2 linked regions of the Homo sapiens genome follow. The protein of the gene in region 1 purifies or fractionates together with the protein of each later gene. This does not show direct contact. Each region holds a gene or a part of one and is shown on either strand. Other genes may lie near its edges. The genes, in order: OVCA2 and MYH11.

What was found.
Region 2: the proteins of OVCA2 (region 1) and MYH11 purify together in Homo sapiens (affinity purification with mass spectrometry; 3 studies listed by BioGRID and IntAct, with this or other methods). This does not show direct contact.

Annotation. Positions count from the first base shown.
Region 1 is NC_000017.11:2,031,230-2,047,209, forward strand, and holds OVCA2 (esterase OVCA2), read left to right. Parts: upstream 1-10,792; 5' UTR 10,793-10,818; coding exon 10,819-11,002; intron 11,003-11,375; coding exon 11,376-11,875; 3' UTR 11,876-12,196; downstream 12,197-15,980. Other genes in the region: DPH1 (2-(3-amino-3-carboxypropyl)histidine synthase subunit 1), read left to right, coding at 2,276-2,428, 2,550-2,613, 4,741-4,862, 5,300-5,457, 5,606-5,727, 8,526-8,594, 8,989-9,145, 9,276-9,376 and 3 more. UniProt on the Homo sapiens protein: Exhibits ester hydrolase activity with a strong preference for long-chain alkyl ester substrates and high selectivity against a variety of short, branched, and substituted esters.
Region 2 is NC_000016.10:15,730,316-15,746,605, reverse strand, and holds part of MYH11 (myosin-11), read left to right. Parts: intron 1-1,368; coding exon 1,369-1,477; intron 1,478-4,714; coding exon 4,715-4,846; intron 4,847-4,936; coding exon 4,937-5,143; intron 5,144-6,417; coding exon 6,418-6,555; intron 6,556-7,917; coding exon 7,918-8,041; intron 8,042-8,985; coding exon 8,986-9,157; intron 9,158-11,027; coding exon 11,028-11,240; intron 11,241-13,897; coding exon 13,898-14,042; intron 14,043-16,290. UniProt on the Homo sapiens protein: Muscle contraction.

The sequences.
Region 1 (15,980 bases):
AACATAGGGGGACCCTGTATGCACAAAAAAATAAAAAATAGCCGTGCGTGGCCGGGCACGGTGGCTTACACCTGTAATCCCAGCACTCTGGGAGGCTGAGGCGGGCGGATTACCTGAGGTCAGGAGTTTGAGACCAGCCTGGCCAACATGGTGGAAACCCTGTCTCTACTAAAAATACAAAAATTAGCCGCGTGTGGTAGCACACGCCTGTAATCCCAGCTACTCGGGAGGCTGAGGCAGGAGAATTGCTTGAGTCCGAGAGGCTGAGGTTGCAGTGAGCCGAGATTGCACCACTGCACTCCAGCCTGGCCAACAGACAGAGTGAGACTCTGTCTCAAAAAAAAAAAAAAAAAAAAAAATTAGCCCTGCGTCTTGGCACATGCCTGTGGTCCTAGCTACTGGGGAGGCTGAGGTGGGAGGATTATCGTTTGAGCCCAGGACGTCGAGGCCGCAGTGGACCATGATTGCACCCCTGCACTCCAGCCTGGGTGATGGAGTGAGACCCTGCCTTAAAAAATAATAAGATGAATTGTTTATTCAGCTTATTATTTTTTATCCTACTTAGGAGTAGGATGAGACCAGAGTAAGAGTTGCAGTTTGCTAAGGGCTACGGTTTCCCCTTTACTCCAGGAGTTGTAATTATGTGTATACCTGTCTTTTCCCCCACTAGACTGCTGGTCTCTAAGGGACAAGGTCACTTTTCTGTCCTTACTGGTACGTCCACCACCCTGACTCAAGTGTTCTTTCCATCCTTCCTGGTTTAAGAGTAAGGAGGAGCAATGGGACAGCTAAGTCAGTTAAATGTATGATGTTTATTTCCCTTTTAAATGAGGAGAGGTAAGCGTGAAAGAACGAACAGTGTGGCCACAGTCAGTGGGGTTCTGAGTCAGGAGGGCAGTCTTTTAAGTTAGTATTCATGTTTAACGGTTTGCTTATAGACCTCATATCTAGAAGCTCAAAACTTCAAGGTGTCCTCAGGAGGTGGGAGAGGGGGGACATTCTCCCAGGCTGGCTGGGCTGGCTAGACTGACTCTTAGGTTTTCCGCAGGGCTGTTCTCTATCAGGGAGCAGTATATGGACTCAGACTCATTCTTTGCCCCTTAGCCCCTGGTGTCACCTCTGTTCTCCTGAGGAAGAAGGTGAGCCATATTCTATTCATGGGCTCAAGTCTTCGATTCCCAGTGATTTCACAACATGGAAATTATACCGGTTACCTTCTGGCTTAATGAATTGTCTCTACCTTCAGGATGAATTCAGTGAGAACGAAAGCTGGGCCAACCCCCTTGGTGTCTGGATCTGGCCCTTAAACTTGGTGGAGTTAACAGCTTAGCTGGGTCTTGTTACCAAACTCAACTTGGGTCTTCCCATCCACACAAAGCAAAAGCCAAACACTGACATGGAGATTTGCAGGGAGAGAACAAGCATTTATTGTAAGGCACCAAGCAGGGAGACTGGGCAGCTAAAGCTTAAGACCTAAACTTCCTGATGGCTTACAAGCAAAGGGTTTTTATTTTATTTATTTATTTATTTTTGAGATGGTGTCTCGCTCTGTTGCCCAGGCTGGAGTGCAGCGGCGTGATCTCGGCTCACTGCAAGCTCCGCCTCCCGGGTTCACCCCATTCTCCTGCCTTAGCTGGGACTACAGGTGCCTGCCACCAGGCCCGGCTAATTTTTTGTATTTTTAGTAGAGAGTAGTATTTCCCCGTGTTAGCCAGGATGGTCTCGATCTCCTGATCTCGTGATCCGCCCGCCTCAGCCTCCCAAAGTGCTGGGATTACAGGCGTGAGCCACTGCGCCCGGCTGCAGAGGGTTTTTAAAGGCTGGGCTTCTGGGGATCTTTAAAGTGAATTAAGGGCTGGGGAATTTCTGGAACTTTCTTACCTATTTTCTGGCTTCAGTCTGTCTGAGGTCTTACATGACAGCAATTAGTTGGCATTTTTCACCTGGTGGGGGGGTGGGTGTCCTGGTTTCTGAAAAACAACTTAGGGATATATGTCAAGGTGTTATGTGTAGTTTCTATAGGGAACCAGGCATCTCGTGACTCTGACTTGGGTGACTGTTGTTTATTATCTTCTTGTTTAGCAAGTTATTTAATTCCCTAATTGCTGGTTGTAGGGCTAGCTAAGATGCCTGGGATTTTTCTTGAGATGACTCAAAATTTTTATTTCTATGCTTGAGCGGGGGCACCGGCAGGCCCTGAAAAGGGATCCCTATTCCATCTCAATCTGGCTTCAGCCAAAGACAGACACCAACTCAGGCCTTATATCCATTCTAGGTCGGGCCCCTCGGGGCCGCGTGGCCAATCAGATCCCCCCTGAGATCCTGAAGAACCCTCAGCTGCAGGCAGCAATCCGGGTCCTGCCTTCCAACTACAACTTTGAGATCCCCAAGACCATCTGGAGGATCCAACAAGCCCAGGCCAAGAAGGGTGAGCCTGTGATCATTGAGCTGGGGTTGGGGTGGAGAGGTTGCCTGGCCCAGATGGGACAGTGTCCCCCTTGCAGCCCCTTCCTAGCCCTCCACCTCTCATGTCTCTGCTCGTCTTGCAGTGGCCTTGCAAATGCCGGAAGGCCTCCTCCTCTTTGCCTGTACCATTGTGGATATCTTGGAAAGGTGAGGCTTGGGGCACTGGAGAGGAGGGTGAGCCAGGCTTCCCCCACCCCCTATGCTCATTACCCGGGTGGGTAAAGCCCTGGTGGCGGGCATTTTTTCCTTCTGAACCTCCACCTTCCCCCTTTCCCTCCCACAACCATACACACACTCAGGGAAAACCCAAAACAAATCTCCCAGCTTGCTGAGAGCCCTGCTTGTCCCTGCAAATCCCCCCTCCCCTAAACATTTGGGACAGAGAAAGAAATCAATCCCAGTGTCTTCAAAGCTAGACCCAGAGCAGGTGGTAGGACCTGGGGAGGACCCTAAGAATTCTCCAAGCTGCCCCTGAAATGCGCTGAGTGATCAGTGGGAGGTCTGCCGGTCGGGGGCGGTGGGGGGCACCTGTTCCTCGGGCACATTTGGGGAAGTAGGGCAAGGATGGGTTTGGAGTGGGAGGTGCCTGGGAGAAGGTATTCAGTTCCTCTACATCCTACCCCTGTCACTCTAAGTTTCTGCAATACAATGAGCCATCCTTGGTGGGGAGGGTGAGAGCTCAGCCATCTGGAACCAGCACAGGAACAGGGGAGGGGAACGAAGAAAGGGGAGGTCATCTCATGCTGGGAACCTCCCACTCCCCTGCTGCCCCATCGCCCTCCCCTGCTCCTCCCTCCCCCTCCCCTTCTCCCCCATCCCCCTCCCCTGCTCCCCCATCCCCTGCTGCCCCATCCCCCTCCCCTGCTGCCACCCTCCCTCCCCTGCTCCCCCAAACCTCTCTTCTCCCCCCTTCCCCTCCCCTGCTCCCCCTCTCTCCCCTCCCCTTCCCCCTCCCCTGCTCCCCCTCCCCTCCCCTGCTCCCCATCCCCCTCCCCAGTTTCCCCATCCCCTCCCCTGCTGCCCCATTCCCCTCCCCTACTCCCCCTTCCCCCTCCCCTGCTCCCCCCTCCCCTGCTGCCCCCTCCCCTCCTCCCCCACTCCCCTGCTGCCCCATCCCCCTCCCCTGCTGCTGCCCCATCCCCCTCCCCTGCTGCTGCCCTCCCTCCCCTGCTGCCCCATCTTGTTGCCACAGACTCACTTCCCTGCTCCCACCGTCTTGCCCCTTGGGGATGCTCTCTGGGGCTCAGGCCAATTTGCATACATTTTAATCTATAAAAAATTAAGTGCTGTGGCTGACTTAGACGCCTGGGCTGCATTCTAAGGAGGTGAATAATCTGCTTCTGGGCACAGCCTGATTTGGGGAAGGGGGTGGAGGAGGGGGTGACTAGCAGGAGCTCAACTCTTCCACTGCCACACCCCCAGGGGAAGGATGGGGGGACCCCAGTCACTGAGCCAGGCTCCACGCCCCAAGTGTGAGTCTCTTTCAAGGAAGAGGGGGTTCTCCTCCATTCCTAGGGTGAGTTCAGGGGTACAAGGTCTTCCCCACCCACCCCCTCCCCCAGTGATTCAGGCCTGGCAGCAGTTCCCACGGCAGTGTTCTGGCCAGAGCCTCCTCTTCCTGATGCAGGAGGCGTGTAGGTGGTGCCATGTGCTATGGGGGAGCTGTGCCTGGGTCCCCCCATCCTGGGCACCAAGGGCCCTGCCTGCGGTGGGGAGGTAGTGGGGGTCCGGACGAGAGGGCCCTGCCTGTGGTGGGGAGGTAGTGGGGGTCCGGGTGAGGGGGCCCTGCCTGTGGTGGGGAGGGGGTGGGGGCCCTGCCTGTGGTGGGGAGGGAGTGGGGGTCCCGGCAAGAGGGAGGCTGTGTGTATTCATACAGCCACGCCCATGCCCACCACAGCACTCAGCGCGGGAGTGAGGACCTTTGGGTGTGTGTGCGTGCTCACGGCTCTGGGTGGGTGAGTCAGGGCATGGGGCGTCTGTGTTTTGACCCCACGTGTGCCGGAGTGAGGGTTGGGGTCCCTCCTGCAGCCTGAGCCTGGGTAGAGGAATGAGGGTCCTCACGCAGCAACAGTTCCAGGAGCGGCTGCCAGGCTGGGGCAGGCGGCAGCTGTGCCCCTCCTAATCTTTGTTGGCAGAAGTGGCAGCTGCCATCCCGAGGAACTGGGAGAGGTAGGGAGAGAGGAGCTGGGCCCTGAGACACCCTCCCAGGGTTGGGTCTCTCCTACCTCAGTCCCTGTGTCCCTGTCCCACCGTTCCCCGCCCCTGTGCCCGCAGGTTCACGGAGGCCGAAGTGATGGTGATGGGTGACGTGACCTACGGGGCTTGCTGTGTGGATGACTTCACAGCGAGGGCCCTGGGAGCTGACTTCTTGGTGCACTACGGCCACAGTTGCCTGAGTATGGTGGGGCCAGGACACCTGGACGGTGGCGGGGCTGGCAGGGAGGCAGGCTGCACATTCATCTTCCCCATGGCAGTGCCTTCTTGTCCTGCTTGGAGACACAAGGTCCCTCCTGGTTTCTGGGGTGGCCTCTGCCTTCCCGCTCTGCAGGTAGATCTTTCCTTTGGATTTGGTTGCCTTGGCAACGGTGCTCTGTCCCAGATGCAGGTGTTTGAAAGGCTGTTGGTTGTAGAGCAGGCTGGGCCCCGGCCGGGTGACAGAGAAGTCTGATTGAGAAGGAGCTTCTAGGGGATCTGTGACCCCCCTCTTCTCCTACCCTGTCCTTTTACCCCCAGGCTGAAGCCACTGCGCCTGGCTGCTCAGAGACCTGAGCCTGGCCGGGCCCTCTGCTGCTCCTGCCTTCCCAAACAGCCCCTGAACTCCTCCCTCCCACAGTTCCCATGGACACCTCGGCCCAAGACTTCCGGGTGCTGTACGTCTTTGTGGACATCCGGATAGACACTACACACCTCCTGGACTCTCTCCGCCTCACCTTTCCCCCAGCCACTGCCCTTGCCCTGGTCAGCACCATTCAGTTTGTGTCGACCTTGCAGGTGGGTGGAACGAGGATCCTCGGCCTCCTGCAGGGTGGACAGCGGCCACTCTCCAGCTGTTGCGGGATCCCCAGGTGCTCCAGGCTGTTTCTCAGCCCTGGCTCTCCTGCCCCAGCCGCTGGCTTCACTTCCCTCGTCATTCCTACAGGCAGCCGCCCAGGAGCTGAAAGCCGAGTATCGTGTGAGTGTCCCACAGTGCAAGCCCCTGTCCCCTGGAGAGATCCTGGGCTGCACATCCCCCCGACTGTCCAAAGAGGTGGAGGCCGTTGTGTAAGTTAAAAATGGGGGCCAAGTAAGTCCTAGAGACATGCGTGTACCCTGGGAGGGAGCCTGAGGTTCATCATCCAGGAAAGAAACCAAATCTAATGCTCCTTACCTGTGAGCCCGAGGTCACACTGCAAGGTAGGGACCAAACAGGGAGCAGACCTCAGGTTTACTGTCGCTTTCTCCACTGCCCAGTCCATCATCCAGAAGGCTGTGCAGGGTGGGGGCAGGAATCAGAGGGCCTGATGGGGGTTGAGGGTGGGCTGGAAATGGTGGGAATATAATTGGAGAAGATGGATGGGCACGCCCAGGCTGCAGCCCCATTAATTTACCATCCGGACAGCTAACAAGCAGAAGCAGCGTGTCTCCTGCCGCCTAATTATTTTAGGTAATGGAAATGCTTAATGTTGTGTGAATGCAGCCAGCCTGAGAGCCGACGGCTCCCCCGACTGGGACTAGGGAAGGGAGTCCCGTTCCGTACTAATGGCAGGGAGGGAGGGTCGCTCCCTGACTCAGTCCCACCTCTGGGGCTTTGGAGGCTGTTTCCACAGGCCTGACACCCCTGTCCCTAGACAGGCCCACATCAGGGCCTTCCCCAGCCCAGATCTGGCAGCCCTGCTCCCCGAGCAGCACTGAGTGGCATTCCCCCTGTGCCCACGTCACTCAGTCTCTACCCTTGGGGTCTTCAAAGTGTATGTTGGAGGGAGGGACACCCTGAGTGTTAGCCATTCATCAGAATGAAGTGTGGTCTCCAAGAGGGAGAGAAGGAGCTGCCACAGGCAGGTTATCTTCCACGCTCTGTAATCTTCATGGGCTGGGAAGCTACTGTCAGGGACAGCATGTCTGGGGGCACACTTGGTACAGCCTGGGTTGAGCCTCAGACACACTGCTTCCTAGCTGTTTAATACTAGGCGAGTTTCTTAACATCCCTGAGCCTCAGTTGTTACCTTCTGTAAAACAGGTATACTATACGTATCTGGGAGGATTAGGAGATAGGACTGCGTGAACTAATTCACAGCAGGTACTTAGTCTATGCCTGGTACACAGAAGGCACAAGTCCAATAAACAGTAGCTGTTGGCCGGGCACAGTGGCTCACGCCTGTAATCTCAACACTTTGGGAGGCCAAGGCAGGAGAATTGCATATGTCCAGGAGTTTGAGACCAGCTTGGGGAATATAATGAAACCCTGTTCTCTCCAAAAAAAAAAAAAAAAAAAAAAAAAAGAATTAGCTGGGTACAGTGTCCATGCCTGTAGTCCCAGCTCCTCAGGAGGCTTAGGTGAGAGGATCGCTTGAGCCTGGGAGGTTGAGGCTGCAGCGAGCCATGACCGAGTCACTCAACCTGGGTGACAGAGTAAGACCCTGCCTCAAAAAAACAAAATGAAAATCCGGTAGCTTTTGTTATAACTCAGTAACTGGCCCCAAGAGCTAGTTTGGGCAGAAAGTAGCCATTGTATGCCCTGCAACCTCATGTACAGCATAGATCAGAGGTCCCCAACCCCTGGTCCCATGTCCTGTTAGGAAACCTGCCGCACAGTAGAAGGTGAGGGGTGGGCCAGCCAGCGTGACCACCTGAGCTCCGCCTCCTGTCAGATCCGCCGCGGCATTAGATTCTTGTAGGAGCTCAAACCCTATCGTGACCTGTACATGCGAGGGATCTAGGTTGCATGATCTTTATGAGATCCTAATGCCTGATGATCTGAGGTGAGACAGTTTCATCCTGAAACCATCCCCCAATCCCACCCGTGTCTTCCACAAAACCTGTTCCCAGTGCCAAAAATATTGGTTACTGCTGGCGTAGATGACTCCTTGAACACTACTGTCCACATCTGTATTGAGCTTGTGAAGGAGAATCTGTTCCCCAACTTCCAAATGAGGATCTCTAGAACCCCAGGTGGCCTCACCACGGCCGGCTGCTCCTTCACTCTTCCTCAGAAGCTTGGGGTGGGACGGTTCTTAGATTCTGCATTATGTAAATAGAGGGACCGTAGAGTCATCCAATTCAAACTCCTTATTTCACACGTGAGAAAACCAAGGCTCCAAGAGGTGAAGTGAAGGCTTGTCCCAGTTTACACAGAGGCACAGCACAGCCAGCTGTGAACTCAGTCCTCTGGACTTTTTTTTTTTTTTGAGACAGAGTCTTGTTCTGTCGCCCAGGCTGGAGTGCAGAGGTGCGATCTCGGCTCACTGCAGCCTCTGCCTCCCGGGTTCAAGTGATTATCCTGCTTCAGCCTCCCCAGTAGCTGGGACTACAGGTGCCCGCCACCACGCCCAGCTAAGTTTTTGTATTTTTAGTAGAGACAGGGTTTCACCGTGTTAGCCAGGATGGTCTTGATCTCCTGACCTCGTGATCCACCCGCCTCGGCCTCCCAAAGTGTTGGGATTACAGGCATGAGCCACTGCACCTGGCAGCCCTGTGGACTTCTTTTTTTTTTTTTTTCTTTTTGAGACGGAGTCTCACTCTGTCACCCAGGCTGGAGTGCAGTGGCGCGATCTCAGCTCACTGCAAGCTACGCCTCCCGGGTTCACGCCATTCTCCTGCCTCAGCCTCCCGAGTAGCTGGGACTACAGGCGCCCGTCACCACACCCAGCTAAGTTTTTGTATTTTTAGTAGAGACGGGGTTTCACTGTGTTAGCCAGGATGGTCTCGATCTCCTGACCTCATGATCCGCCCGCCTCGGTCTCCCAAAGTGCTGGGATTACAGGCGTGAGCCACCGCGCCCGGCCAGCCCTGTGGACTTCTAAGCCAGCGAGTGCCTCTTCTGCTGCCCTAAACCACACTTAGCCTCCTTTCCACCCCTGCAGGTATCTTGGAGATGGCCGCTTCCATCTGGAGTCTGTCATGATTGCCAACCCCAATGTCCCCGCTTACCGGTATGGGCTGGGCCGGGCTGGGCTGACCAGCTGGTGAGGGGTGAGATTCCCTGCCACTGAGGTCCTCAATTGGTTGCATCCCCATTTCCTGGCCACTAAGCCACCAGCCCTAAGGGTCTGAGGCACTTGGGCCCTGGATCTGGGCATTAGCCCCAGGGCTGCTGTTGCCTACCCGTCTCCTGGGGTTTACACGGAGATCTTAAAGCCGCCCACTCTTGTCTGCTCCAGCTGTGGGACAGGTCTTCCTAATGACAGTCCCCGCTCTTGCCTCTGTTCTTAATTACCTGCGTGGGGCCTAAAGGTTCAGGAGCCCACGGGGCTGAGTCAGGAGCTGTGTGCATAATACTGGTCCTGACAGTGGCTGCCACAGTGACCCTGACTGCTTCTTTTCCAGGTATGACCCATATAGCAAAGTCCTATCCAGAGAACACTATGACCACCAGCGCATGCAGGCTGCTCGCCAAGAAGCCATAGCCACTGCCCGCTCAGCTAAGTCCTGGGGCCTTATTCTGGGCACTTTGGGCCGCCAGGGCAGTCCTAAGATCCTGGAGGTCAGTGGGCTCAGGACAGCCTCTGGAGGAGGGAAGTGACTGGGAACACAGCTGGGAAAACCAGTAGGCCACAGGTTCAGCTTTGGCTGCTTGACCAGGTGACCCCCACCCTGCCTCCCTCTCCCAACAGCACCTGGAATCTCGACTCCGAGCCTTGGGCCTTTCCTTTGTGAGGCTGCTGCTCTCTGAGATCTTCCCCAGCAAGCTTAGCCTACTTCCTGAGGTGGATGTGTGAGTATCTGCCTGGCTATGACTGGCTAAAGAAGCTTAGAAGCTGGGTCTTGCCCAGCTCGTCTTGAAGGCTGGAGCCAACAGGAATTGCTTCCATGGTCATGGAATTTTACTGTTTACAGAGACCTCCCTGGGAGGGCTAACTGGGTCATACCTGCTTTGGGACTTTGGGGCTCAGAGGCAATGGCAACATCACATTTGTCCTTGTGAGATGAGTTTGAGCGGTGGCTGACACCTGCCCTGTACCAGGTACTAAATGTGGTTCTGGGGATACTATCACCAGTGAGCTGCCCTGGAAAGCTCATTGTCGGCAGAGGAAACAGGAGAAAACACGCAACAATACAGTATTCCAAACAGCAGTGGGTCACTGTCTTTACTTTAGGATTCATAAAGCCTGTTAATGAATGGGTGTGCTGGGGGCACTGTCATGTTCTTCAGCATGCTGCCTGGGCGACGAGGAGGCCCTTCCTAGGGTCTGACCTGGCTTCCCTTCCCAGGTGGGTGCAGGTGGCATGTCCACGTCTCTCCATTGACTGGGGCACAGCCTTCCCCAAGCCGCTGCTGACACCCTATGAGGTAACACCAAGCTCTGGGAGAGAGTGGGCTTTGGACGTGGTTCTCAAAGGTGAGGTCTGGAGTGGAGTGGGGTGGGTGGGCAGCACTTCGTTATGTTCGTAGATTCCGGAGTCTGTCTCGATTTCTCCAGCGGAGTCACTTCCTAGCTGTGTAGCCTTAGGCAAGGCCCTGAACCACACAGTTCCCTTCTGTGGCAGGGGACAGTGTGCCCTTCACAGGCCGTCGTGAGGACTGAATTCAGTAATCCAGGGGCAGAAAAACACTGGCAGATGTTATTGTCCCTCCCTCCCCTCCCCTAGGCGGCCGTGGCTCTGAGGGACATTTCCTGGCAGCAGCCCTACCCGATGGACTTCTACGCTGGCAGCTCCTTGGGGCCCTGGACGGTGAACCACGGCCAGGACCGCCGTCCCCACGCCCCGGGCCGGCCCGCGCGGGGGAAGGTAGGCGGGGGCTTCCAGGAGGGAGGAGAGACCGCGCCTGGGCACTGGCCGCCGCCCTGCGACCGCGACGGGAAACGCACAGGAGCGGAGCGGAGGGAAACGCAGGGTCGCAGGAGCGAGACCCTAACCAAAGTCTGCGACCTCAGGTGCAGGAGGGGTCCGCGCGTCCCCCTTCGGCCGTGGCTTGCGAGGACTGCAGCTGCAGGGACGAGAAGGTGGCGCCGCTGGCTCCTTGACGCGCTCCCGGGCCTCAGGTATCAGCCCCCGCTCTGGGTGCGCCCCGCCTTTTGCCGTTGTCATGGGAACGCCTTGGCGCTCCGAGGCCCGCCCTCGGGGCGGTGCTGACGTTCGGTTCCGCCCCGTGCATTGTGCTTCCGCTCGGGGAAAGACCGCTTCCGGTGCTTCCGTCGCTCCTTGCCGGGCATAATGGCCGCGCAGCGACCCCTGCGGGTCCTGTGCCTGGCGGGCTTCCGGCAGAGCGAGCGGGGCTTCCGTGAGAAGACCGGGGCGCTGAGGAAGGCGCTGCGGGGTCGCGCCGAGCTCGTGTGCCTCAGCGGCCCGCACCCGGTCCCCGACCCCCCGGGCCCCGAGGGCGCCAGATCAGACTTCGGTGAGACAAGCCCCGCTCCGGAAACGCACTCAGTTTCCTCCATCTTGTTTCGTCCCCCTCGACACCCTTCAGCATCCCCCACCCTGCGTCCACCCGCATTCCTCCCACCCAGTCCACACCCTTCATTTCTCGCGACCCATACCCTCTTTGCTCAAACTGCAGCCTGTCCTCCCAGGCTTCCGCCTTCACCGTCTTCCTCCGCTGTCTCCTGTTCAGGCCAATCCACTCATTTCCCCCCTCTCATTTCCCCCAGACTTTTGCCTCGATTCCCTTTTTCTCTCTGTCATCTCGAACCCTCCTGCCCTTTCTCATTTCTTTCCTTCCTGGAGCCTCCCATGCCCTAATCCCATCCTTTTTCCTCATATCGCTGTAGGGTCCTGCCCTCCGGAGGAGCAGCCTCGAGGCTGGTGGTTTTCAGAGCAGGAGGCCGACGTTTTCTCCGCATTGGAAGAGCCCGCCGTCTGCAGGGGCCTGGAGGAATCACTGGGGATGGTGGCACAGGCACTGAACAGGCTGGGGCCTTTTGACGGCCTTCTTGGTTTCAGCCAAGGGGCTGCGCTAGCAGCCCTTGTGTGTGCCCTGGGCCAGGCAGGCGATCCCCGCTTCCCCTTGCCACGGTTTATCCTCTTGGTGTCTGGTTTCTGTCCCCGGGGCATTGGGTTCAAGGAATCCATCCTGCAAAGGCCCTTGTCATTGCCTTCGCTCCATGTTTTTGGGGACACTGACAAAGTCATCCCCTCTCAGGAGAGTGTGCAACTGGCCAGCCAATTTCCCGGAGCCATCACCCTCACCCACTCTGGTGGCCACTTCATTCCAGCAGCTGCACCCCAGCGTCAGGCCTACCTCAAGTTCTTGGACCAGTTTGCAGAGTGAAAGATCAAGAAATGTCTCTGCTCCTACATCCAGCTCCTCTAGGGGCAGCCTCCGTCATCCATGCCCTCCCAGGACCCTCCACTCACTGCTGTGAGTGCGCCTCACCAGAACCAGTTAAGAGACAACTATCAATTCTTGAGACCCAAATTATAAGGGCCCTGCCCTGTACTGAAGAAAAGGGGAGCACAAGGCCTTAATGGACATTGACTTGTGAAAACGCAAACATGAATATGGTTGGAGAGCCCTGGATTAGGAGGGTGACATGGGGAAGGCAGAGGCTGGCACCATGGTGACTGCCACATAATAAAGTGGTGATTTGGATTTTGAGCATCTTTTTCCTGGTACACACAGAAAAACATTTTATAATGGAAGTCGGTTTCTTGGCCATCTACATAGTTTTCTGGGCAGCGCCAAGCAGGGAGGTGTCTCCAGTTGTGAGTCCTCGGACAGGCTGCTGCATGGGTGCACATACTCACGTTATTGGTGGAAGTTTTAAGTCCCAAACTGAAGGGAAGGAGGCCTAGGTGGCACAATCAGGGAGGAATATACATCTGAGAAGTTTTGGGAAGACATCACCTGGCAAGGCTGCCTGAACCACAGTAATTTAGTCTTCCTCTATCCAGATCACTGAGAGTTGTGTGCTGGTCTTCTCTCAAACCCTGGATGTGTTACCTGCTTCTCCCTAAGTGCTCTAACCTCGCTGAACTATGAGCCTGAAGGGTGGGTCGATGCCAGACCTTAGGTGGAGGCCAAAGACAGTACAGAATAAACAGCTTCTTCCTAAATTGACCCCATCTTGAGGGTTTCTGAGATTGATGCCATTCTTTAGTGACTACAGCCAAGGCCTAAGCAATCCAGCTGGTTTTCCCCTTGGGGCGTGTAGTTGTTCTTGGATACTTTGAGGATTGCTCACTCTTTTTTTTTTTTTTTTTGAGACAGGCTCACTCTGTCACCCAGGCTGGAGAGCAGTGGCCAAGATCCTGGCTCACTGCAACCTCAGCCTCCTGGGTTCAAGCAGTTCTGTCTCAGCCTCCTGAGTAGGTGGCGTTACAGGCATGCGCCACCACGCCTGGCTAATTTCTATATTTTTTTGTAGAGATAGGGTTTTGCCACGTTGCCCAGGCTGGTCTCAAAACTCTTTAGCTCAAACAATCCACCTGCCTCAGCCTCCCAAAGTGCTAGGATTATAGGCCTGAGCCACTGCACCTACCTAGGATTGCCCACTCTTTTTTTGTTTTCTTTACTTTTAAAGACAAGGTCTGACTCTATCACCCAGGCTGGAGTGCAGTGGCACAATCTTGACAGCCTCCACCTCCCGGGCTCAAGCCATCCATCCTCCCACCTCAGCCTCCCAAGCAGCTGGGGCTGCAGGCGCAAATCACCATGCCTGGCTAATTTTTGTATTTGTTGTAGAGAAGGGGTCTCACCATGTTGTGCGGATGGTCTCCAACTTGCGAGCTCAAGCAATCCACCTGTCCTGGCCTCCCAAAGTGCTGGAATTAACAGGCGTGAGCCACCTCACCTGGCCAATTGCCCACTCTTAATGAGTTCCCTCCCATTTCCAGTGCCACCTGACACCCCCCACCCCCTGACACACACACACACACTCTTGTTTTCTGACTTCCTGCCTCTGCAAGACAAGAAGCCTGTTCTTTTTCTGGAAGATCACACCAACTCCTGTTTAGCCCTCAGACATAGTTGCCAGGGAGCTAAGCAACTGAGCAGGAATTATGGTCAGGGACACAGCACAAATACTCCAGCCCATTTTTCTGACAACCAGACTAATATCCCTTACATTACCGAAAGTTCTGGGTTCCTCACTACAGAGATTAGCTGTCCAAAATTAAAAAAAACAAAACAAAACAGAATTATCCGCCCAGAGACCTAGTTACTGGGTGTGGAAAGTGTGTGTGGGGAGGGGTGGGAGGTGGTTCTCCCTTGCTTCAGTTGGCTTCTGCCTTGTTTTAAGGAATCTTCTCCTTTAGCAAAAGGAGGAGACTTTGGAATGGATTGATTACACAGACTGTGGTATCTGACCCATTGAATTTTAGAAAAAATTCTGATTTAAAGTTTCAGAAATTGCACAGAAAATTTCAGATTTCTGGCTTCTCTGGAAATGATAGATTTGCAGTTCAGGGCTCCCATACCCTCATGGTAATCATAGGCTGCCCCCTTTAGCACGGTCCCAAGAGGTGAAAACGACTTGTACACCCCAGCTGCTTGGGATTATTGAGGACGAAAGTAGAGAGAAGGGGAGAAATATTGGGGAGTGAATTTTGAGCCAAGGCTTAAAATTAAAAGTGGGGGAGGTAGAGCCCAGCAGTAGTAGGTGGAGGAGAAGGGCTCCTGGCCGGGGGTGAGGATTCCTCCTGAGAACCATAGTGTCCAAGCTAGAGGGAAACATGGGGTCCACTAGTTCTCGACAAGTGGAACAGGTCACTTCCCATCATGCCGTCCAGGAGCAAGAGAGACTCTTAGGGGGTTGTGCCCCTCCCCACCCCCAATACGCAGATTCTGTGTACCATTTACATCCAGAACATTGGTTAAAACCTGAATTCTGGCCCTGCGTGGTGGCTCATGCCTGTAATCCCAGCACTTTGGGAGGCGGAGGCGGGCAGATCACCTGAGGTTGGGAATTTGAGGCCAGCCAGACCAACAGAGAGAAACTCTGTCTCTACTAAAAATACAAAATTAGCCAACCATGGTGGCGCATGCCTGTAATCCCAGCTACTTGGAAGGCTGAAGCAGGAGAATTGCTTGAACCTGGGAGGCAAAGGTTGCGGTAAGCCGAGATCACGCTATTGCACTCCAACCTGGGCAACGAGAGCGAAACTGTCTCAAAAAAAAAAAAAAAAAAAAGTAGCTGGGCGTGGTGGCATGCACCTGTAATCCTAGCTACTTGGTAGGCTGAGGCAGGAGAATTGCTTGAACCCAGGAGGCGGAGGTTGCAGTGAGCCGAAATTGTGCCACTGCACTCCAGCCTGGGTGACAGAGTGAGACTCCATCTCAAAAAACCAACTTGAATTCTGGGGCCAACTCCAGATGTACTGAGTCAGAATCACTGGGACCCAGGAATCTGCATTTTGGCAAATTGCCCCCATCATTCCCAAGCAGGGATTTGAAAAGCCACTGCCTTAGGGGTTGAATGAAAGCCTCGGGTGAGGGTGTGTTATCTGAAAAACCCCTAGTGTGACTCTCTTGCAACCCACCAGGGAGGGGAGCAAGCTCCCCAGAACAATCACTGCTTAAACATTTTCAATTTATAGCAAAGGAAAATTAGGTCTGAAGGATAGAAATAGGAATAGCATTTATTTATTTACTTACTTATTTGAGACGGAGTCTCGCTCTGTCACCCAGGCTGGAGTGCAGTGGTACAGTCTCCGCTCTCTGCGACCTCCGCCTCCTGAGTTCGAGCGATCCGCCTGCCTCAGCCTCCAGAGTAGCTGGGATTACAGGTGTGCATCACCACTCCCAGCTAATTTTTGCATTTTCAGTAGAGACAGGGTTTCGCCATGTTGGCCAGGCTGGTCTTGAACTCCTGATCTCAAGTGATTCGCCCACCTCAGCCTCCCAAAGTGTTGGGATTACAGGTGTGAGCCACTGCACCCGGCCAGAAGAGCATTTATTGAGTAATAACTGTATACCAGACATTGTAATAAGCAAGAGCTTTAATGCGGCCTAATTTAGGGCCAGGTGCGATTGCTCATGCCTATAATCCCAGCACTTTGGGAGGCTAAGGCATGAGGATCAATTGAGCCCAGGAGTTCAGAACCAGCCTGGGAAACATAGTGAGACCCCCTCTCTACAAATAATTTAAAAGTTAGCTGGGTGTGGTGGCATGCACCTGTGGTCCCAGCTACTCGGGAGGCTCAGGTGGGAGGATCACTTGAGCCCAGGAGTTTTGAGGCTGCAGTAAGCTGTGATTGTGCCACTGTATTCCAGCCTGGGAGACAGAGCTAGACCCTGTCTCCAAAAAAAAAGAAAAAAAAACAAACTACAAAAATTGGCTGGGGGTGGTGGCACACACCTGTAGTCCTAACTACTCAGGAGGCTGAGACAGGAGAATTGCTTGAACCTGGGAGGCGGACGTTGCAGTGAGCCGAGA
Region 2 (16,290 bases), on another chromosome or scaffold:
TCTCTGTCTGGGGTGTGTGTTGTCATTGGGCAGAGACCACACCCTCACCAGTAGGACCCTGATGTGTCAGGTTCATTCATTGACACATGGACCCAAGATGGTCAAGGCCAGCTTTGGGAGCTCTTGGCCCTCCCGCAACAGACCTAACTTGTCAAGTTTCGTTACTAAGTTCCCTGTTGCTGTCCTTCCTGGATAACTGGGGCAATTTTATTCTTAAAGTTTTCCTGTGTCCAAGATGGCAGCCAAGCAGGGAAGACAGAATTACGTTCACTGTTCTATCGTTTCTCAATCTATCGATAGCCCTTAAACGGGAAGAGTGCTGGTTCAGGGTCACAGTGTGAAATTCCTAAAACAACCCAGGAGAGAATAGGTTTGACAGGGCTGGGTGTGGTAGCTGACACCTGTAATCCCAGGCACTTTGGGAGGCCGAGGCAGGAGGATTGCTTGAGCCCAGGAGTTTGAGACCAGCCTGGGCAACATGGCGAGACCCCTATCTCTACCAAAAAAAAAAAACTTTAAAAATTAGCTGGGCATGGTAGCATGTGCCCGTAGTCCCAACTACTTGGGAGGCTGAGGCAGGAGGATCATTTAAGCCCAGGAATTTGAGGCTGCAGTGAGCCATCATCACACCACTGCACTCCAGCCTGGGCCGCAGAGCCAGACCCTGTCTCTGAAAATAAACAAATAAATAAATAAGTTAGTCAGAAACAGCTGGTGTAGGCTGGGCATGGTGGCTCCTACCTGTAATCCCAGCACTTTGGGAGGCCAAGGTGGGTGGATCACCTGAGGTCAGGAGTTTGAGACCCACCTGGCCAACATGGGAAACCCCATCTCTACTAAAAATACAAAAATTAGCCAGGCATGGTTGTGGGCACCTGTAATCCAAGCTACTCAGGAGGCTGAAGCAGGAGAATCACTTGAACCCCGGAGGTGGAGTTTGCAGTGAGCTGAGATCGTGCCACCGCACTCCAGCCTGGGCAACAAGAGCGAAACTCTATCTCAAAAAAAAAAAAAAAAAAAAAAGAAAGAAAGAAAAAAGAAACAGCTAGTGCAGCTGGGGAGTACGGGAGCCCCCTTAGGAATGATGCACATAGTTGTGTTTTCTGAGTGGTGTTTGGATCTCAGCTAAGTCCAGGGCATGTTGTGAGCCCTGGGTCTTCCTTGTCCACTGAAAAAGGCTCTGTCCTGTAGATGATTTAAGTTGTTTGCAGCCAGACAACACATGTGTCACACAGGGTTTCTGGAAGAACCTGAGTTGGGGAGATTGGGGCATGTCCCTGTGCAGGTTCAGGATGCTGCAGGGCAGGGCTCTGTTGACAGCAGGGTGTGGCTTCATGACCCCCGCACCTTCTCTTCCCCCCTCCCTAGGGCTTTTGCCAAGAGGCAGCAGCAGCTGACCGCCATGAAGGTGATTCAGAGGAACTGCGCCGCCTACCTCAAGCTGCGGAACTGGCAGTGGTGGAGGCTTTTCACCAAAGTGAGTGCTCTGCCCCAGCCCCCTTCCCAGGGGCCCCCAGCCCTGCTTCTTCACTCTGGAGCCTTCACATTTGGGACAGGAGGTGGTCGCAAGTGGGTGTGGAATGGAGGGCTCGAACTCAGACCTTGAGCATTGGCGGTTCTCTGGCCCGAGGAGGCCCTGTCCTTTGGCACATAGGCTATAGCCAGGACCTTAACACAAAGTATTAATATTTCCATCCGCACTGGAATCCCTCGTGTGGCCCATTTATAGCCACACCCACTTCCTCCGTAGCCATGGAAACCACTCTGTTCTCCAGTTCTGTAATTTTGATGGTTCAAGAATGCTGCCGGGGGCGGCGGCTCACGCCTGTAATCCCAGCACTTTGGGAGGCCGAGGCAGGCGGATCACTTGCGGTCAGGAGTTCAAAACCAGCCTGGCCAACATGGCAAAACCCTGTCTCTACTTAAAATACAAAAATTAGCTGGGTATGGTGGCAGGCACCTGTAATCCCAGATACTCAGGAGGCTAAGGCAGGAGAATCTCTTGAACTCAGGAGACAGAGGTTGCAGTGAGCCAAGATCATGCCTGCACTCCAGCCTGGGTGAAAGATTGAGACTCTGTCTCTTCTTTCTTTTTTTTTTTATTTAAAAAAAAGGCCAGGCACGGTGGCTCACGGCTGTAATCCCAGCACTTTGGGAGGCCGAGGCGGGTGGATCACAAAGTCAAGAAATCAAGACCATCCTGGCCAAGATGGTGAAACCCTGTCTCTACTAAATGTACAAAAATTAGCTGGGCGTGGTGGCAAACGCCTGTAGTCACAGCTACTCAGGAGGCTGAGGCAAGAGAATCACTTGAACCTGGGAGGCAGAGGTTGCAGAGAGCTGAGATCGCGCCACTGTACTGCACTCCAGCCTGGTGACAGAGCGAGACTCCGTCTCAAAAAAAAATAAAACAAATATTCTATACATGGAATTAGAGAGCATCCAGACTGTTGCATGTATCAATACTGCAGGTTTTTTTTTTTTTACTTTTTGCATTTTTTGAAATGGAGTCTCACTCTGTTACCCAGGCTGGTCTTGAACTCCTGACCTCAAGCAACCCTCCTGCTTCAGGCTCCCAAAGTGCTGGGATTACAGGCATGAGCCACCTCATCTGGCCATAGCATATTATTTTTTATTTCTGGCAGAGTCAGGGCCTCCAGAGGACTCAACTGGTTCCTGTAGTGGCACTGGTTGCATTGTCCCCATGGCACAAAGACATGCTCTGTTGCAATAGACTAGGCTTCTCCTTATATGCCCTTGAGTGTATCCACTGGTGCAAGGCTTTTTCACCAAGCAAACAGACATTGAGTGCCTGCTGTATCCCAGGCACATGCTAGGTGCTGGGGGTGCAGCTGTGAACACACACCATGGTCCCTGACCTCCATGAATATTCTAGCCGAATTGGTGGGGAGTAAACAATAAACAGATAATCACAGAGACAGATACATAATGGCAAACTGTGATAAGTGCATGAAGCAAGCTGCTGGAGTACATAGCAGGGGCTTCCTTGTGCCAGGCAGGGGCTTGAAAACAAAGAGTTAGGAGGCAGCCCAGGGAAGGACAGCAGATGCTGCTTTTTGGAAATGTTCGTCCCCACTGAACCAACTTCTGAAAAACTATCCTAAGAAAATCGTCTTAGCCAGGTGTGGTGGCTCATGCCTGTAATCCCAGCACTTTGGGTGGCCAAGGCAGGAGGATCACCTGGGTTCACGAGTTCGAAACCAGCCTGGCCAACATGGCGAAACCCTATCTCTACTGAAAATACAAAAATTAGCCAGGTGTGGTGGTGGGCACCTGTAATCCCAGCTACTCAGGAGATTGAGGCAGGAGAATCACTTGAACCGAGGAGGCAGAGGTTTCAGTGAGCTGAGATCGTGCCACTGCACTCCAGCCTGGGTGACAGGGCGAGACTCCACCTGAAAAAGAGAAAAGAAAATCAAGAGTTAAGGGCATTCATTATGGCCTTATTTACAATAGCAGAATTTCAGTGTCCAGTCCTAGCTGAATGATGAGTTCAATAATGGTTCATCTATCAATGGAATGTTTTCAGCTATTAAAATGATGGCTTTGGCTACTGAATAGGTCTGCTAAAAAAAAAAAAAAAAAAGACTTCTACCTAGCTGTCTAGTTGGACACTGTGGCATGTGCCTGTAGTCCCAGCTACTCTGGAGCTGGGGTGGGAGGATCGCTTGAGGCCAGGAGTTCAAGGCTGCAGTGAGCTATGATTGTGTCACTGCACTCCAGCCTGGGTGACAAAACAAGACCATCGCTAAATAAATAAATTAACTTAAAAGATGGCTATGTAAAGTTGTAAGAATGATGTAACAGCATGGGGTAATACATATCTTATAATTTTTAAAAAAATTTTATTTGTGGAGACAGGGTCTCACTGTGTCACCCAGGCTGGAGTGCAGTGGCACAATCGTGGCTCACTGCAGCCTCAGCCTGCAGGGTTCAAGCGATCTTCCTGCCTCAGACCCCTCACTAGCTGGGACTACAGGCACACACCACCATGCCTGGTTACTTGTTTTTGTAGAGATGGGGTCTCATGATGTTGCCCAGGCTGGTCCCAAACTCCTGGGCTCAAGCGCTTGCCTCGGCCTCCCAAAATGCTGGGATTACAGGCATGCATCACTGTTCCTGTCTGTATCATATAATTTTAAATAATAAAAGCAGCCTCTACAACTAGGCAGCATGGTCTTAAGTCTATTTTTTAAACATAGAAAAAGAGCCAGGAAGGAAATGTAAACAATGTTAATAATGACTTTGATAGGGAGGTGGGTGGGATATGAAAGATTTTTTTTCTCCCTTTTGTCCTTGGAAGGAAATATCACTTTTCAGCAGTAGTTCTCTGTTGGGATGGTTCTAAAGTGGGGAAGATGAGACTTTTTCCTTTCACTTTGTACCTTTTCTGGTGCTCTGATTTAGAGCTCCTCAGTCTTGCCACTGTTGATATTTTGGGGTGACTAATTCTGTTGTGGGGGCTGTCCTGTGCACTGTAGGGTGTTTAGCAGTATCCCTGGCCTCTACCCACTGGATGCCAGAGGCACCCCCCACCCCAGCTGTGACAATCAGCAGTGTCTCCAGACAATATCCCCTAGTGGGGATCGGTGGGGGCAACATTGTCCCTGGCTCGGAACCACTGATCGAATTTATTATGACAACATATCCCTTTGCCACAAAAACAAATGATGGGCTAACCGTGTGTGTGCAGGTGAAGCCACTGCTGCAGGTGACACGGCAGGAGGAGGAGATGCAGGCCAAGGAGGATGAACTGCAGAAGACCAAGGAGCGGCAGCAGAAGGCAGAGAATGAGCTTAAGGAGCTGGAACAGAAGCACTCGCAGGTACCTGTATGGATGCATGGCTGGGGTTGCTGGGGAACAGGACTTGGCCCCGTGGGGCTCACCCGCCTCCTCCCCACCACCTGCGTGCAGCTGACCGAGGAGAAGAACCTGCTACAGGAACAGCTGCAGGCAGAGACAGAGCTGTATGCAGAGGCTGAGGAGATGCGGGTGCGGCTGGCGGCCAAGAAGCAGGAGCTGGAGGAGATACTGCATGAGATGGAGGCCCGCCTGGAGGAGGAGGAAGACAGGGGCCAGCAGCTACAGGCTGAAAGGAAGAAGATGGCCCAGCAGATGCTGGTAAGGTGTCACAGGGGCAGCCCGTGGTGGGTAGCAAATCACTTGACCCTCACCACAGGCCTGTGGAGGTGCATCCAGGGATATGTGTCCCTGCTGGGACAGATGATGAGACGGGGGCTTGGAGAGGGTTGGTCATCTGATCAAGGCCACACAGCTGGGATTGGGACTGGAACACAGTGAGCCCACTCTGTTCTATTGCCCTGCCTTGCATGTGCTAACCCCTTTTCTCCTAACAGCAAGCCTGAATGGAGGATAATTGTATTTGTTAGCTATTGCTACATAACAAAACATGCCAAACTCAGCAGCTAAAAATAAAAAGTATTGCATAGTCAGGAATTTGAGAGTGGCTTAGGTGAGTGGTTCTGGCTGAGGGTCCGGCCTGAGGTTGCAGTCAAGGTGTTGGCTGAGGCTGCAGTCATCTGAAGGCTCATCTGGGGCTGGAGGACCCACTTCTACTTGGCTTATTCACACAGCTGTTGGAGGAGGCCTCAGTTCCTTATCATGAAGGCCTCTCCCCTCAGGGCTGCTTGAGTGTCCTTCCAATATGGCAGCAGAGTTCCCCCAGAAGGAGTGATCTGAGAGAGGAGAAAGGAAGCCGCAATGCCTTTTATAGCCTAATCTCTGAAGTTACATTCCATCACTTCTTCCTGATTTTTGTTGTTGTTGTTAGAAGCAAATCTAACCCCCACTCAAGGGGAGGAGAATTAGGCTCCACCTTTTTGGAGTCGCAAAGAACTTGTGGATAGATTTTAAAACCACCATGGTACCTACTGTGCTCATTTTATAGATGAGGAGGTTGAGGTTCCATGAAGCAGAGCAGCTTACCCAGGTCTTTATTTTTTTTTTTTTTTTGAGACAGAGTCTCACTCTCTTGCCTAGGCTGGGGTGCGATGGTGCGATCTCAGCTCACTGCAACCTCTGCCTCTCGGGTTCAAGCGATTCTCCTGCCTCAGCCTCCCGAGTAGCTGGGATTACAGGAGCCCACCACCATGCCTGGCTAATTTTTTTTGTATTTTTAGTAGAGACGGGGTTTCACCATGTTGGCCAGGCTGGTCTTGAATTCCTGACCTCAAGTGATCCACCCACCTCGGCCTCCAAAAGTGCTGGGATTACAGGTGTGAGCCACCACGCTCAGGCCTTTATTTCTTCCTTTTAGGAGGCTACAGAGTTCTGGGCATCTTCAGGCCTAGCCCCTGTATTCATTAGTCCCCAGATCACCACGAGAGTAAATCTGTTATAACCAAAGCTGTTACTCTTTTCCCTCCACAACAAAGGACCTTGAAGAACAGCTGGAGGAGGAGGAAGCTGCCAGGCAGAAGCTGCAACTTGAGAAGGTCACGGCTGAGGCCAAGATCAAGAAACTGGAGGATGAGATCCTGGTCATGGATGATCAGAACAATAAACTATCAAAAGTGAGTAGGGGCCGGGTGCAGTGGCTCACGCCTATAATCCGAGCACTTTGGGAGGCCAAGGTATGTGGATCACTTGAGGCCAGGAGTTTGAGACTAGCCTGGCCAACAGGGTAAAACTCCATCTCTACTAAAAATACAAAGATTAGCCAGGTGTGGTGGCCAGTGTCTGTAATCCCAGCCACTTGGGAGGCTGAGGCAGGAGAATCACTTGAACCTGGGAGGTAGAGGTTGCAGTGAGCTGAGATCGTGCCACTGCACTGCAGCCTGGGTGACAGAGTGACTCTGTTTCAAAAAAAAAAAAAAGTGGAATCAAGTTTCTGCATTAAAAACAACAGGCTTACCAGGATCAGGGAGATTTTGGGGATTTGGGACTTTCAGTTCTCAAAGCAGAAAAGCCCTTAGAAAACCAGGACAAGCTGGTCACCGTAGTCAGTAGTCACTAACCAGCCCCACCTGCTTTTAGTTCTTTGAGCTGGATGTCAGCTTGGCCCCTACTGTGAGCCAGGCTCTGTGTTAGATGCAGGTATGCATGGTGAAGGAGGACCCTTCCCTTGTGGGGTTTATACTGTAGTGAGATGGCAAATAATCGTCATTTACCATGGTGATCAGGGCTCTGAAGGAAACGTTCACCATATTTTAAGAGTGCGGCAGGCCGGGTGCGGTGGCTCATGCCTGCAATCCCAGCACTTTGGGAGGCTGAGGCAAGTGGATTACCTGAGGTCAGGAGTTGGAGACCAGCCTGGCCAACACGGTAAAACCCCATCTCTACTAAAAATACAAAAAATTAGTTGGGTGTGTTGGCGGGCGCCTGTAGTCCCAGCTACTCGGGAGGCTGAGGCAGGAGAATCACTTGAACGTGGGAGGCAGAGGTTGCAGTGAGCTGAGATAGCAACACTGCACTCCACCCTGGGCGACAGAGTGAGACTCTGTCTCAAAAAAAAAAAAAGAATACAGCAGTGGGGGATAGAGGAAGGGTATTCATAGAAGACTTCCTGGAGGAGGTGACATTTAAGCAGAAACTTAAAGATGAAGGAGCAGTTAGAGGGGAGTAGAAGAGCATCTCAGCTGGTTGGCCCACTGTGCAAAGGCCCTGGGGCAGGGAAGAGCTGGCCAGTGGCAGGAATGGAAGGAGGGTACCTTTAGCTGACCATACAATATGAGGGACAAACTGGCACGAGATGAGAAATGGCCAGTTTTTGGAAATTGTTATGGGACTTCTCTTTACCATTTAAAACTCTAGTTGTATTTTGTTATAATGTGGGTTTTTCTTTCAACTGTTTACATGGAAATCACTAAAAGTGAAACATAGATTCTAGAGAAAAGAAAAATCCTAAAGCTATCTCTTTCTCTTTCCCCAAAAAGGAACGAAAACTCCTTGAGGAGAGGATTAGTGACTTAACGACAAATCTTGCAGAAGAGGAAGAAAAGGCCAAGAATCTTACCAAGCTGAAAAACAAGCATGAATCTATGATTTCAGAACTGGAAGGTAAACCAGCTACCAAGAGATTTATTTTTATTTTATTTTATTATTTTTTTTAGAGATGAGGTCTTGCTCTGTTGCCCAGGCTGCAGTGCAGTGGTGCGATCATGGCTCACTGCAGCCCGAAACTCCTAAGCTCCAGTGATCCTCCTGCCTCAGCCTCCTGAGCAGCTGAGACTACAGGCGTGCATCACCACACCCAGCTAATTTTTTTTTATTTTTTATTTTGTAGAGATGGGGTTTCACTATGATGCTCAGTCTAGTCTCAAACTCCTGGGCCCAAGCAGTCCTCCCACCTTGGCCTCCCAAAGTGCTGGGATTATAGGCATGAGCCACTATTCCTGGGCTTGAATGGGTATTTTTAAAAGCAGGAAAATCAGAAAGGAAATTTGAGGATGGCAGATCATCCCATGAGTGACAACTAACTCTATGCCACCTCTCGAAATCACCCTTAGTCATCACATGCACTAATAATATGATAAAAGGGCTGGGTGCGGTGGCTCTCGCCTGTAATCCCAGCACTTTGGGAGGCCGAGGTGGGCGGATCACGAGGTCAAGAGTTGGAGACCAGCCTGGCCAACATGGTGAAACCCTGTCTCAAAATACAAAAATTAGCCAGGCGTGGTGGCGGGCGCCTGTAATCCCAGCTACTCGGGAGGCTGAGGCAGGAGAATTGCTTGAACCCGGGAGGCGGAGGTTGCAGTGAGCTGAGATTGCGCCACTGCACTCCAGCCTGGGCAACAAGAGCAAAACTCCATCTCAACTAATAATAATATTATGACAATATAAGGTGCTGTTCATCGGGAGATAATGGTCCAGACCGTGACTATGATGGTTACTGATTGGGGGATGTGTTCATCTCCTCCGGGTAAAATGCCTGGGCAGGAAGGCTCATTTCCGGGCATCTCTCTGGGGCCTCCCCTTCCTGAAGAGCACCTTGGTTTTTGCAGTGCGGCTAAAGAAGGAAGAGAAGAGCCGACAGGAGCTGGAGAAGCTGAAACGGAAGCTGGAGGGTGATGCCAGCGACTTCCACGAGCAGATCGCTGACCTCCAGGCGCAGATCGCAGAGCTCAAGATGCAGCTGGCCAAGAAGGAGGAGGAGCTGCAGGCGGCCCTGGCCAGGTAGCGGGGCTGGCAAGGGGCATTTGCTGTGTGTCCATGTATCCCCTGGGCCCCTGCTCATTCGCTCATTCGCAGTGGCTGTCTTGGTCAAGGCGGCCCCAGGCCCTTGGCATGAACTTCGTTTCCCAGGCCAGGCCTCCCACAAGCCTTCTCGACCCTGTTCACTCCCCCAGATCCTCACCTTCGACTTTCTTCTCTTCCCTGCAAACACATCATGTCTTTGCAGTTGATCTCACCTACTCCCATGGTGTTGCTGCTGCCTCTTCGACATCCAGGCTTTTCTCATCTAGACCCCCTTCTGAATTTCCGATTGCCCAATGAGTCAATTTCCACCGTCATCTCAAACACCCCTGTCTAAGGCGGGAATGACCTTCCTTTCCCCAGCCCCTCCCTCTAAGGGCCCTCTTTTTTGTGAACACCAATCTCCTCCTTTGTTTCTGCCGACCCACAGCAAGCAGCAACCTTCAGATTCTGCCAGTCCTTCTAAATGTCCCCCACCCATTTCCTCTGGTTTTTCCCTCTTCCTGGCTCTTAGCTGGATTTACACTAATGCTAATACTGCAGCAGCCACTATGAATGATTATTTACCTGCTCACTCGGTGCTAAGTTCTTTTCAAGCAATACCTTTGCAGACACCTGGCCAGGTGTACTGCCGGTGTCTTTGAGGAGGAAGCTGAGCCTCCTAGGGGTAACGCAACAGGAGCAATGTCATTGCTTCTAAGAGGCAGAGCTGGGATTTAAGCCTCAAAGCTTTCTGATTGATCCCCTGGCCTGGCTCTTTTGTCGGCCAATTTGTGCTATGTTGACAGTGCTACGGTGATGAAGGGAAAGCATCTCTCTGGGGCAGGAACCTGCTCACAAAACTTTGCTGGCTGGATGCAGTGGCTCACGCCTGTAATCTCAGCACTTTGGGAAGCCGAGGTGGGGGGATTGCTTGAGGCCAGCAGTTTGAGACCAACATGGGCAACATAGCAAGACCCTGTCCCTACAAAAAGTTAAAAAATGAGCCAGGCATGGTGGTGTGTGCCTGTAGTCCCAGCTACTCAGGAGGCTGAGATGGGAGGATCACTTGAGCCCAGGAGGTTGAGGCTAAAGTGAGCTATGATCATGCCACTGCACTCCAGCCTGGGCAACAGAGCAAGACCCTGTCTCAAAACAATAATAACAACAAAACAAAAACCTAACTTCACTGGCTTACTAGGGAAAATCCAGTTTCCTTAGCCTCACCCTCAGAGCCCATCCACCCTCTGCAGTCTCACCCCAACCCAACTATTTCACTTTCTCTCTTGTTGCTGCCCTTTCACAAGTACAGTAAAATCAAAGTGCTTGCCTCTCCTGCAGCATTCTGCCATTTAACAGGGCTTCTTGCAGCCCACCTTGATCTCTGGTCACCACCTCCACCAGATGCAGAGCCCCAGTCTGAATATCCCCCGCAAGCAGTGGCTGGCCAAATGCTGTGCATGGGGCGGGTACTCAGTCACTGAGCAAATGCAGAAAGAACAGACAGTTGCCAGGGAAGAAGAACTGTCCAACATTCAGAAAGCATCTACACAGTCCCTACTGTGACCAGGTACCTTGCCAGTCTGGGGTCAATGCTTTGCATTCTTGCACACACATGCACACACGTGCATACACACGTACACACACCCATGCACATGTACAACCTGTTTTGATGTCAGACCTTGGCACTCACATCCTATGTTAATCTCATATAGTCTGGCATGTCAAGAAGCAGACCTGGGGACATGGATAGAAGGTGTTTGATGTCTCTGCAACATAACTGTCTGGTCCCAGAAAAGTTTTTGGCCACATTGTAAGAGAGGAAACCAAGGGACCTGGGGGTTCATTCTGCTGGGTCTCTCCCTGGAAGGCTTGACGATGAAATCGCTCAGAAGAACAATGCCCTGAAGAAGATCCGGGAGCTGGAGGGCCACATCTCAGACCTCCAGGAGGACCTGGACTCAGAGCGGGCCGCCAGGAACAAGGCTGAAAAGCAGAAGCGAGACCTCGGCGAGGAGCTGGAGGCCCTAAAGACAGAGCTGGAAGACACACTGGACAGCACAGCCACTCAGCAGGAGCTCAGGTGAGGGGCCCATCAATCCCACCATCCTGCTATCCCACTGCACCAATGGGATGGGGGCAGAAGAGGGGACAAACCCAAAGCAAATCGTGCATCAGCCCCTGTGCATTTACCTTCCTGGCCGCGGTTTGCTTTAACTTATAGAAGCATGGTTGGCTGTTTCTTTTTTTTCTTTCTTTTTTTTTTTTTTTTGAGGCAGTCTGGCTTTGTTGCCTAGGCTGGAGTGCAGTTGTGCCATCTTGGCTCACTGCAACCTCCACCTCTGAGATTTAAGCGATTCTCATGCCTCAGCCTCCTGAGTAGCTGGGATTACAGGTATGTGCCACCACACCCGGCTAATTTTTTGTTTTTAGTAGAGATGGAGTTTTGCCATGTTGCCCAGGCTGGACTTGAACTCCTGGCCTCAAGTGATCCACCCACTTCCGCCTCCCAAACTGCTGGTATTACATGTGTGAGCCACTGCACCCGACCCTCATCATCTTATTTCTCATCAGAAGAGTAGTATATACCAGGGATGTACAATCTTTTGGCTTCCCTTGGCCACATTGGAAGAAAAAGATTTGTCTTGGGCCACACATAAGATACACTAACACTAATAATAGCTGATCAACTAAAAAAATTTTACAAATTGGAAAAAACATCTCATACTGTTTTAAGAAAGTTTATGACTCTGTGTCAGGCTGCATTCAAAACCATCCTCATTGGTAAGCTTGGATATACTCAGAGAACAATTTGAAAACTATAGAAAAGCAGACATAAAAAAAAATCACCTTTAGGGTCGGGCTCACGCCTATAATCTCAGCACTTTGGGAGGCCAAAGACAGGTGGATCACTTGAGGTCAGGAGTTCAAGACCAGCCTGGCCAACATGGTGAAACCCTGTCTCTACTATAAATCCAAAAATTACCTGGGCGTGGTGGCGCATGCCTGTAAATCCCAGCTACTCAGGAGGCTGAGGCAGTAGAGTCACTTGAATCTGGGAGGCAGAGGTTGCAGTGAGCTGAGATCGCACCATCGCACTCCAGCCTGGGTGACACAGTGAGTGAGACTCCATCTCAAAAAAAAACAAAAAACAAAAAAATCACCCTTAGTCACACCAGTTAACATTCTTGAGAAATTCCTTCCTGTCTGTGTGTGTATCAGTCAGTCCCCAAGCTCCAATTCCCAAGTATGTGTGTGTATCACTTTTGTGTTAAATTTTAAAAATAAAATTGATCAGATTGGTTTTCAATTGAAGATTCACTTCAAATGAACAAACAATAACAAACTGCCTGCCAGATCACGAATCCTGACTCTAGTGAAACTAGGTCATTGATTCATTCAGTAAACACATAAATGTATTTTGATGCAATCTGTGGTGTTGGCATAGCATGTATCATAGCATATAGCTATGCTAGCTGTGCCAACACCATATACCCTGGGGTTTACTTCCCCCACTTTGGGTTTTGTGCAGTGTCACATGCACATAGAGCACAGCGTTCTGCTCCCTTGCCGCTTGGCCTTTGATACAGAAGAGCCCAGTGCATGGGCCAGGTATGGTGGCTCATGCCTGTAATCCCAGCACTTTGGGAGGCTGAAGCAGACAGATCACCTGAGGTCAGGAGTTCGAGACCAGCCTGGCCAACATCATGAAAACCTGTCTCTACTAAAAAGACAAAAATTAGCCGGGCGTGGTGGTGGGCGTCGGTAATCCCAGCTACTTGGGAGACTGAGGCAGGAGAATCCCTTGAACCTGGGAGGCAGAGGTTGCAGTGAGCTGACATCATTCCACTGTACTCCAGTCTGGACGACGGAGCAAGACTCGATAAGAAAAACAAACAAACAAAACAAAAAACCAGGCTGAGTGCGGTGGCTCACACCTGTAATCCCAGCACTTTGGGAGGCTGAGGCGGGTGGATCACCTGAGGTCAGGAGTTCGAAACCAGCCTGACCAACATGTTGAAACCCCATCTCTACTAAAAATATAAAATTAGCCGGGCGTGGTGGTGGGCACCTGTAATCCCAGCTACTTAGGAGGCCGAGGCAGGAGAATCGCTTGAACCCGGGAGGTGGAGGTTGCAGGGGGCCAAGATTGCGCTGTCGCACTCCAGCCTGGGCAACAGGAGTGAAACTCCATCTCAAAAACAAACAAACAAAACCATGGACTCAAGGTCAAGGTTTAGCTTCTAATTCTGGCTCCATCACACAATGGCTGTGACACCATGGGTAAAACTGCTTACCCTCTCTTAGCCTTAGTTTCCTCATTTGTAAAATGGAAATAATAACACACCTGCCTCTTTGGGTTGCTCTGAGGATTAGATGATGTATATAAAAAACTTAGCTCAGGGCCTGGCATATAGTAACTGCTCATTAAATAAGAGCCAACATTAATATTTAAGCAAAATTTTGCAGTTCACAGACATCCTTTCAATTCTATTACTTTGTGTATTTGTTTGCCAGTCATTACAGATGTCCTAGGCAGGTGATATGCTCCACATTTTGCAGCTGAGGAAATTTTAGGTCCAGAGATGTTAGGTGAATGACCCAAGGTCACACAGCTAGAGAGGGGTGGTGATGAGGACTGCAGCTCTGGGTCCTGGAAGAGCTCTCATTCTTTTGCACGGCACTGAGATGACCCTCTGTCTCCACCCAACTGCCATTCACTGTGTTCCTCCCACCAAGGGCCAAGAGGGAGCAGGAGGTGACGGTGCTGAAGAAGGCCCTGGATGAAGAGACGCGGTCCCATGAGGCTCAGGTCCAGGAGATGAGGCAGAAACACGCACAGGCGGTGGAGGAGCTCACAGAGCAGCTTGAGCAGTTCAAGAGGGTAATGCTTTTTGGTGATGCTTTTTGGTGATGACACATAAGAGTGACATCAGCAGCCTCAAATTACTACAGGTCAGGGTCTGCATAAAGACAAAAAACAAGTTACATAAGATTCTAATGATGATGATAGCAGCTTATATTTATTTACAAAATGCTTCCCATACAGGCTGGGTGAGGTGGCTCACGCCTGTAATCCCAGTACTTGGGGAGGCTGAGGCGGGAGGATCGCTTGAGCTCAGGAGTTGGAGACCAGCCTGGGCAACATAGTGAGACCTTGTTTCTACTAAAATTTTAAAAAAGTAGGCCAGGCGTGGTGGCTCAAGCCTGTAATCCCAGCACTTTGGGAGGCCAAACTGGGTGGATCACCTGAGGTCAGGAGTTCGAGACCAGCCTGGCCAACATGGCGAAACCCTATCTCTACTACAAATACAAAAAATTAGCCGGGCGCGGTGGTGCATGCCTGTAATCCCAGCTACTCGGGAGGCTGAGGCAGGAGAATCACTTGAACCCAGGAGGCAGAGGTTGCAGTGAGCAGAGATCATGCCATTGCACTCCAGCCTGAGCAACAGAGCAGGATTCCATCTCAAAAAAATAAAATAAAATAAAATATTGGCCAGGCCTGGTAGTGCATTCCTGTGGTCCCAGCTATTTGGGAGGCTGAGGTGGGAGGATCGTTTGAGCCTGGGAGGTTGAGGCTGCAGTGAGCCCTGTCATGCCACTGCACTCTAGCCTGGACGACACAGTGAGACCTTAATCAAACAATAAAAATAGGCTGGGCACGGTGGCTCACCATGTCTGTAATCCCAGCAATTTGGGAGGCAAGGCGGGCAAATCACTTGAGCTCAGGAGTTCGAGACCAGCCTGGCCAACATGGTGAAACCCCATCTCTACCAAAAATATAAAGAATTAGCTGGGTGTGGTGGCATGTGCCTGTAATCTTAGCTACTCGGGAGGCTGAGGCAGGACAATCACTTGGACCCAGGAGGAAGAGGTTGCAGTGAGCTCAGATCGTGCTACTGCACTCCAGTCTGGGCGACAGAGTGAGCCGCCATCTCAAAAAAAGAAAAAAAAAAAAGAATGAATAGAAATGCTTCTCATACAGTATGTCAATTAATCTTCACAACCACCCTGTGAGACGTGTACTATTAAACTCATTTTACAAGCAAAGAAACTGAGGTCCTAGGTGCCTAGAGGTGAAGAGACTTACCCAAGGTCACACTGCTGGTAAGTGACAGAGCCATGATTTGCACCCAAACAGTCTGGTCCTAGACCCCACTTTCTGGCCTCTACAGGACTGAAGGCCTATAGGATGGGTGGGGCCTATCAATATACTGCCCTTCAGGGATAAGCAAAGGTGTAACAACACTTTCGGGGAGATTTAAATGAAACTTAAAACTGGGATCATTCTATCCACTTTAATTTCTCTGCAGACTGGAGGAAGGCCAGGCATGGCGGCTCATGCCTCCCGTAATCCTAACACTTTGGGAGGCCAAGGAGGGAGGATTGCTTGAGCCCAGGACTTTCAGATCGCCTGGGCAACATAGCGATTTTTCTTTTGTAAAAAAAAAAAAGACTGGAGGAAACTTGTCATTATTTGATTTCAATGGCAGAACAGCTCTCTCCGGCATAATTTGAGAATGACTAGGTCAAATCACTCTCCCGTTGTTGGAACTCTTTGCGGTGTATGGGAGTGGGAGCTGGTAAATAGCAGTACCGAATGCTGAATCTTGGGTGCTCTTCTCTCCTTTGGGGTAGTGCCTGTGCTTCATTCCCCAGGGTAAGTTTTTTAGCTTGCGACCTTCGGCCAGATTGTTTTCCTGAAAGCCTGAGTTACATTACCCTCAGCGTTGCAGCTCCTCCACATCCCCTTCAGTGGAAGCTTTTGGTTCTGCTAGATTAAGTGGGTGCAGCATTGCCTAAAAATTTTGGGGAATTTGCATTTGGTTCTATCACTAGTGTATTGGTCCGTTGTTGCACTGCTCTACAGAAATACCCAAGATTGGATTATTTGTTTATTTTTTGAGCAGTGGAGTCTTACTCTGTCACTCAGGCTGGAGTTCAGTGGCGTGATCTTGGCTCACTGCAACCTCCACCTCCTGGGTTCAAATGATTCTCCTGCCTCAGCCTCCCAAGTAGCTGGGACTACAGGCACACACCACCATGCCCGGCTAATTTTTTTTTTTTTTTTTTTTTTTAGTAGAGATGGGGTTTTGCCATGTTGGCCAGGCTGATCTCGAACTCCTGACCTC